Linked DNA regions of Homo sapiens. The protein of the gene in region 1 interacts with the protein of each later gene in a pairwise test. Each region holds a gene or a part of one and is shown on either strand. Other genes may lie near its edges.

Evidence for each region.
Region 2: the proteins of LRMDA (region 1) and RAB32 interact in a two-hybrid assay, tested with the Homo sapiens proteins (one large-scale study listed by BioGRID).

Annotation. Positions count from the first base shown.
Region 1 is NC_000010.11:75,434,335-75,438,158, reverse strand, and holds part of LRMDA (leucine-rich melanocyte differentiation-associated protein), read right to left. Parts: intron 1-3,824. UniProt on the Homo sapiens protein: Required for melanocyte differentiation.
Region 2 is NC_000006.12:146,550,087-146,553,910, reverse strand, and holds part of RAB32 (ras-related protein Rab-32), read right to left. Parts: intron 1-3,824. UniProt on the Homo sapiens protein: The small GTPases Rab are key regulators of intracellular membrane trafficking, from the formation of transport vesicles to their fusion with membranes.

The DNA.
Region 1 (3,824 bases):
CAATGGAAATTGGACTAAAATTGGCCAGATTCAGGTGTCCAAAAGAAACCTGAATATCAGGGCACATTGATATAACCGCAACAATCGCCCTCTCACTCAGGGGCTTTTGCAACAGTTGCTCCTCTGCCCCTTCTTCTCCCTCTCCTCCACTGCCCTCCAGTACCCTGGTATGCACATTACCTCATAAAAGACACAGCAGATGCACTTACCAGCATCCAACCTTCAGGGTGCTGGAACAAATAGGGTTGGAAAAGAAAACCTCCCCAGACCACAAATCCCATCCAGTTGCCACTGTGTACAAAATGCCCTCCACACCCAAACAAAGCTGATTTGAAGGCAACAGGGCAACAATGTGTGTCCGGGGCTCCTGAATGTCCCTCCTCCAGAGGCCCTTTGGCAGTCAATCCCACTCTGTGCACAAAGCTGTTTCTTTGGGCATTCTTCTATTTATTACAGATTATTTATTATTAAGTACCTGTATGTGCCCAAATATTAAAAAGCTGAACTGAACTGAATCTGAACTGATTCCAGAACCTGTGAGAAGGTCAGTGGACTTTCTCACTACCCTAATCACCCAGTTTTTGGAACCCATTTTTACAGACAGCACTCTGTGGGCAGATTGGCAACTAATCCTCAAACCATAAAATAAACCCATGAGGCCGAGTTGACCAGTGGGCCACAATGCATGCTGTTTCCCTAAAATACAACATGCTCAACCCCCAGCTTGAAATTCAAGCCCAAGACACGGCTATAACCTTCTTCTGGTTTCCCTACAAATCACATTCTTCCACACATATAGACAAAGATCTCTTAGAATGAGAGAGAGAGAGACTCCCCAGGAGGGTGTTTCCTCATGGGAAACAAGACTATGGTGGCCATCTTACATCCTCAGATATTAGGTTCAACTATGTGAACTACCAATATCCAACCATTTTAGAACCACAAAATAGCTCTTTTACATGGTGCAACCTAATACAAGCTGCACTGAACCCTGACACCCTCAACATCTCCAGTCATCTCTCAACCTTCTCCTATCCAATGAGGACAAACTGCTGACAATGCAATATCCTATATCCACTCTCCTTCAGTAACTTCATTCTAGGAGGAGAGAAAATAAGGAGAAAGGATAGAAAAATAGCTGACTCCAATAAAGTAATTTTGACTCAAGAAGATATAGGCTAAAAAATAAAGGACTCTAAGTTCAATCTAGCAATCTCTCCTCTTTCTACCTGGGGTCCATCTTTCTTCACAGTTCCTTGTGTAATAAATTAAGTTCTGCTTCCAAGCTGAGACAGAAATCATATGCCAAAGAGAGACTGTGGCTATAAGGCCCTATTCTATCTGGGGACTTCGATTTCCCTCAGGATCTCTGCTCAGTCAGCAGCTTCTTGGCCAGGCGCGGTGGCTCATGCCTGTAGTCCCAGCACTTTGGGAAGCCGAGGTGGGAGGATCATGAGGTCAGGGGATCGACACCATCCTGACTAACATGGTGAAACCCCATCTCTACTAAAAATACAAAAAATATTAGCCGGGCATGGTGGGGAGTGCCTGTAGTCCCAGCTACTCAGGAGGCTAGGGTAGGAGAATGGTGTGAACCCTGGAGGCGGAGCTTGCAGTGAGCCGAGATTGCACCACTGCACTCCAGCCTGGGCGACAGAGCCAGACTTGTCTCAAAAAAAAAAAAAAATTCAGCAGCTTCTTCTGTATTGTACGTTCACAATGAACCCCAGGTCCATGGCGCTCACCAGAAAATCCATCCCATTCACCCCAGCCTGCACTACTGTCTTGCACATATTATCAGTCAAGACCTCTGTGATATATATAGCAGAGACGTTGAGTTTTAGATGCAGAAACTGGGCTCTTTCCTCTTAGAATGGCCAAGGACTAAATCTAATAGACACCCAGTTTGTCAAAACTTCTGATGTTTTATACAAGGAAACTAAGACTCCAGAGCCCTGCCCAGCACAATACAGCTTCTTAGTGATAGAGCCCAGATCAAGTCCTATGCCATAAATAAGGACTTCCAACTTGGGGGCCATGGAGTGCTTACAAATCCATGTGTGGGTGTGAGATTTCTCTCTCTCTTTTTTTTTTTTTTTTTTAAAGAGATGGGGTTTCACTGTGTTGCTCAGGCTGATCTCAAACTCTGAACTCAAACAATCCCCTCGCCTCAGCCTCCTAAAATAGCTGGAATTGCAGATACAAGCCACCATACCAGGCAGACATGAGTTTTCTTGATCAGCAAATGCCAGTGGTGCATCTATCATCATGTTTTGGCTTCAAAATGAGTCTTCTGAGCTGAAAGGGCAAGAACTTCTCCCACGGTGCTACACTGAGGACCCAAGAAGAGTGTTAGAGCCTGGGAAAAGAGAGGGATATTTGCTTCCCTTTTTCTTCTGTAGGAATTCCATTCAAAGGAAACAGGAGCACCAAGGAGAGCTATCATAAAGCATTTGGATCACTCACAACATCTGATGAGACTGTCAGCAGCCTGTTTCAGTACATGGTCTTAACTATACAACATCCCAGGAAGACTAAGAAAAATACAAGTTGTTCTCACTGTTCTCAAATGTGAAGACCAAGTCTCAAAAGTTTAGCATGAGAACCAACTCGATAAGTAATCTGCATGCTTAGATAACTCCTGTGGTAAAGTAGAAGCTTTTAGAGATGTGAGTTAAGCCGACCAGGCTGAAGGGCTCAAATCAGCTGGAAAAGGCTTAAAAGCAGCAAGCAGCCACTGCCAGACATTGCAAGCAATGCTTGAAACTAGAAAAAAGACTTAAGAAGTGCTTCTGAGGGAAGACATTACCTCTCAGGATGTCAGGAAGCTTCTTAGAGCACAGGACCACCTAATGTAAGATTCAAGGCCAGAAGAGCCAAACCAAAAATAGTTTGCTTCTTCAGCAAAAGGGAGACGGGATACAGAGATTAATAGATCTTAAATGGCACAGAAGCAAGAGCATATCCAGAACACCATTGCATTTAGTCAATTACCTTGACTTAGACTGCATTGAGGAACAAAGATTCAAACTTATAATTTCTCTATTTTCTATAATTTGTACCCTAAGACCTCCACCCTGTGTGGAATAACAGGAAGGGACACCATTACCAGGCAAATGAAAATATAACAAGTTAAAGACCCCTACGGAGAAGAAACTAGAAAGGGAAAGGAGAGTGTCTGGAAGGGGTCCCCACCTATGTACACACCCAATCCCTCCAAGCCGAAGCTGCAGAAAATAACCAAACTGCAGAAGACTGCAGGTTTCACTTTGCGTTGGGACTCTCTGGCTCCCAGGGCATTTCTGGAGATGATGAGTTTGTCAACAGTCAGATGTTGAGGAGATTATTTTTTGATGCCTACCCCTAGCCAGGGGTGGGAGATCCTCGATTTTAAATTTGTAATACTGAGCTGGGCACAGTGGTGCACACCTGTATTCCCAGCTACTCAGGAGGCTGAGGCAGGAAGACTGCCTGAGCTCAGGAGTTCAAGGCTGCAGTGAGCTATGATTGCGCTACTGCATGTCAGCCTGGGCAACAGAGCAAGACCTTATCATTCATTCATAAATAAATAAGTGTATGTGTGGTACTGGAAGCTGTCGGAGTAGAAACAACCATAGGTACAAATCTGATTCCCGGTACTGCCACTGCTAGCTGTGTTGTCGCGGATGAGTCACCATCTTCGAGTCTGTTTCCTCTTCTGCAACTGGGCTAACACTAACTCCTCCAAAGGTGTTAAGAATAATGTAAAAACCAACATTTATTAAATGCCTATCATGTGCTTGTTATCTATTCAATCCTCATGAAACAGCCCCATGCATATTATC
Region 2 (3,824 bases), on another chromosome or scaffold:
TCACAGCATTTGTGCGACTGAATTATAAGTTATCATTAAATATACAGTAGGTAACACATTGCAAAAACTGTGCTTATTTTTAAATATATTTAACTGTTCATTTTTAAATAATTTTGGATTTACAAAAACATTGCAAAAAAAGTAAACATTCCTACCATTCACACATATTTCTCAAATGTTAACATCTTAGATAACCAGAATACAACTATCAAAATCAGGAAATTACATAATAGTGTTGTATCAGTGCTAGCCTAAAAAGCTTACTCAAATTGCATCAATTATCTCAATGCCCTATTTCAGATCCAGGATCATAAGCTATATTTCACTGTTGTCGCCCTGGTCTCTTTTACTCTCGAACAGTTCCTCACTCTCCTTGCTTTTCATGACCTTGACACTCTCAGAGAGCACTGGCCGGTGAATATACCTCCATCTGTGATGTTCGATGTTTCCTTATCATTAAATTCAACGTATGTATTTTTGGCAGAAATAAAACACAAGTGATGTACCCTGCACAGTTTATCAGGAAGCACACTGCTTCAAGTTGTTTTTGCCATGTTTCTCCACAGAAAAGTTATTATTTTTCCCTTTGTACTTAGTGCAAATATGTAAATATCCTGTTTCTCACCGCACTTTTCCCCACTAATGTTATCATCAATTAATTCCTCCCTACAACAATCATCACTGTGGTGTTTAATGGTGACTTTTTTATTTCTGCCATTCCTTCTACATTTATTAGCTGGAATTCTACTGTTAGAAAGAGGTTCCACACATGTATACATACGTGACTAACCTGCACGTTGTGCACATGTACCCTAAAACTTAAAAGTATAATAAAAAAATAAAAATAAAAAAAGAAAGAGGTTCCCTTCTCCCCCATTTCTTTATTCATTTGTTCATTTTTATCATGGATTATTAGTTTACTCTATAAGTTGAACCCATTACAGTAATTATTTAGTTTGTTGCTCAAATTGTCTTACATGTTTGGAGCTTGTATGGCAGTATCCTGTATCTTTGTCACATGTCCCCATCATTTTGTAAGCATTTCCTTAGTTTCTTGCACAACAAAATATCTCAGGCACATCTTTACTTGACTTGTTCCACCCGTCCTAAAATCAGGCATTTCTCTAGAGATTCCCATTCTTTTTACTGGAGAATGATATTTAAAAACCGAATTTTGAGCACGAGGTAAGTTAATTGGTTCTGTGGTGTCATTCCTTTTAAGCCCTCTCAGCAGGTATGGCTAGTAAATAAACGTATGTATACACACATGCATCTGTATCAACTTCTTTATCTGTTTACACATATGTGTGTGTACATACATATATCTATACACACTCACATATATATATGCATATACTCTTACACACACACACATATGAAACCTGAAGCTCATATTAATGTCTAATCCAATCCAATGCTATGAGGTTCATTGTAGCCTTTTTCCTTATTTGTAAACCCTTTCTCAGACAACAAGAAACCTAAAACAGCTGTGCTATTTACAGGCATCTTTCATAGCACTGAAACAAGCTTTTTATTTATTTTTTACCTCCACTCCCAAGATAAGTGTTAACTTTAATTCAAGTATTGATCTTTTGAATGTCCAAGTGACATTCAGTCCCAGCTATCCCCATTATATCAAATAATTATAAAATTCTCTAACTGTATTTGGAAGCAGTTGGTTAAAATTCCAATGATAGTGTAACTAGTCACATGTTAATGTAATTCCCATATGTTAATATTATTAAAGTTTCATATTAGAAATCCATTATTTGCCATAAAGGTGAAATGATGAAATTTATTTGCAAAAGTTATCTTTTGCCTATGTTCCTAGTGAAATTCGGATGACTGCAATTCAAGCAAAAGTCAGATCTGAAGTTAGCTGCAGGCCAGCTCAGAAGTGTACCTTAGTGACATTTAGGCAGTACTTTAAGCCTTAACTCTAAGATTTTTAACCTAAATTTTTTTATTACTGTTATTCTCTTGGAACACGTCTGGTTTACTGCTAAGGAAATTCTACAGAAGCTGCTTCTATTATATTTGTATGGAAGCACAGAGCAAACTTGAAACTTGTACTCTTAACCAGCGTTTCACCTTTCACCTCTGCGTGTAATCCTATCCATACATAAAGTGAAACCGATGACTTACACAGTCACAAGCTACTAGTCACATGACGTCTTACATCTGGGGGCAAATCTGGATTTACTATCTGAAAGATTAAATAGAGCCTAAAGGGGAATTTTGTCTATCATTTATAAAACTCCTCCACCAAAATGCACACTCGCATAAGCAGTTATACTTACTGCCCCTTTTTTTTTTTTCGTCTTTTTACAGCAAAGCTGGCAAGTAGAGCAAATCACCCAATAGGCATACAGAGCAGACAGAGGGCATGAGTGTCCAGAAGAACACGCCTGTAATCCTAGTGCTTTGGGAGGCTGAGGCAGGCAGATCACTCCAGCTCAGGAGTTTGAGTCCAGCCTGGGCAACACGGCAAAATTCTGTCTCTACTAAAAATGCAAAAAGTAGCTGGGCATGGTGGCACATGCCTGTGGTCCTAGCTTCTTGGGAGAATGAGGTGACTTCTCTATAAGAAGGCTTTCTTTCTGTGATTTTCTCCTTCGTGTCAGATTAAGTGCTCACATAGCACTCCTGGGCTTCATCTTTCTTCTATCACTATGTTTTATTTATGAAAGGAAATTTTAAGATGCTATATTTATTCAAACAATTAGCCTCTAGCTTAGGAGTGTACATTTCTGCCTGCAGTAGACAGTCTTTTTTTTCCCAGTGACTCCATCATTGCGCAATATTTTTGGAGCGGTCTCCTTTTGTGCAGTCTCTCATTGCTTCGCTTTTATCCCGCAGATCATCATTGGCATCAAGTAGTTTTTCACTCTAAGGGTAAGTTTCTAGTAGAGCTAAACCTAATCTGATTAGTAAATATCCAGAATGAGGTGGGTGATTTGGAGGAACAATCATACATACATACATATATAAAAACACCCGTAAACACACACAAGAAATCCACAGAACATAAACTAAAAGCTAGAACTGTGTTATGATTTCAACAAATTTATGGTATAATGTTTATCTGTCATCACAGAATTTTTCAAACATTTCATCATTCTTACATAAATCTGATTGTCACTAACCCCCTTATGTGAAAGTTCCAATGCACGTAACCCCCCCCCCAAACATTTTATATATGTATAATTTTCACCTTTTTTCTATATCTAGACTATTAAGATTTTTTTTTTTTTGAGATGGGGTCTCACTTTGTCACCCAGGCTGGAGTGCAGTGGCATGATCTCGGCTCACTGCAACCTCTGCCTCCCAGACTCAAGTGATCCTCCTGCCTTAGCCTCCCGAGAAGCTAGGACCACAGGCATGCACCACCATGCTCAGCTACTTTGTGTATTTTTGGCAGAGACAGGGTTTCGCCACGTTGCCCAGGCTGGTCTCGAACTCCCAGTTCAAGCGATCTGCCCGATCCATCTGCCTCGGCCTCCCAGACTGCTAGGATTACAGGCATGAGCCACCGTGCCTGGTCACTAGACTGTTAAGATTTTTGAAAGTCAACTGAGTGTTTTATTTTTTCCTTCAGAAAATATTTTATTCAGCTTTCCATAATAGACAAAAGAAAAAATTCTCACTCTACTGTTTATGAAGCATACCACAAATGTTGATACTTTCTGGCTGTTTCAAATCTTTCGTACACAGTTAACCTAAAACTCTTCAAACATCATCTGAATAAATCTCCTCTCTGATCTTTTCACATGGTCCTGCATGTGACACACATCTTCACCAGAGGCATCTTCCTATTCACTTAG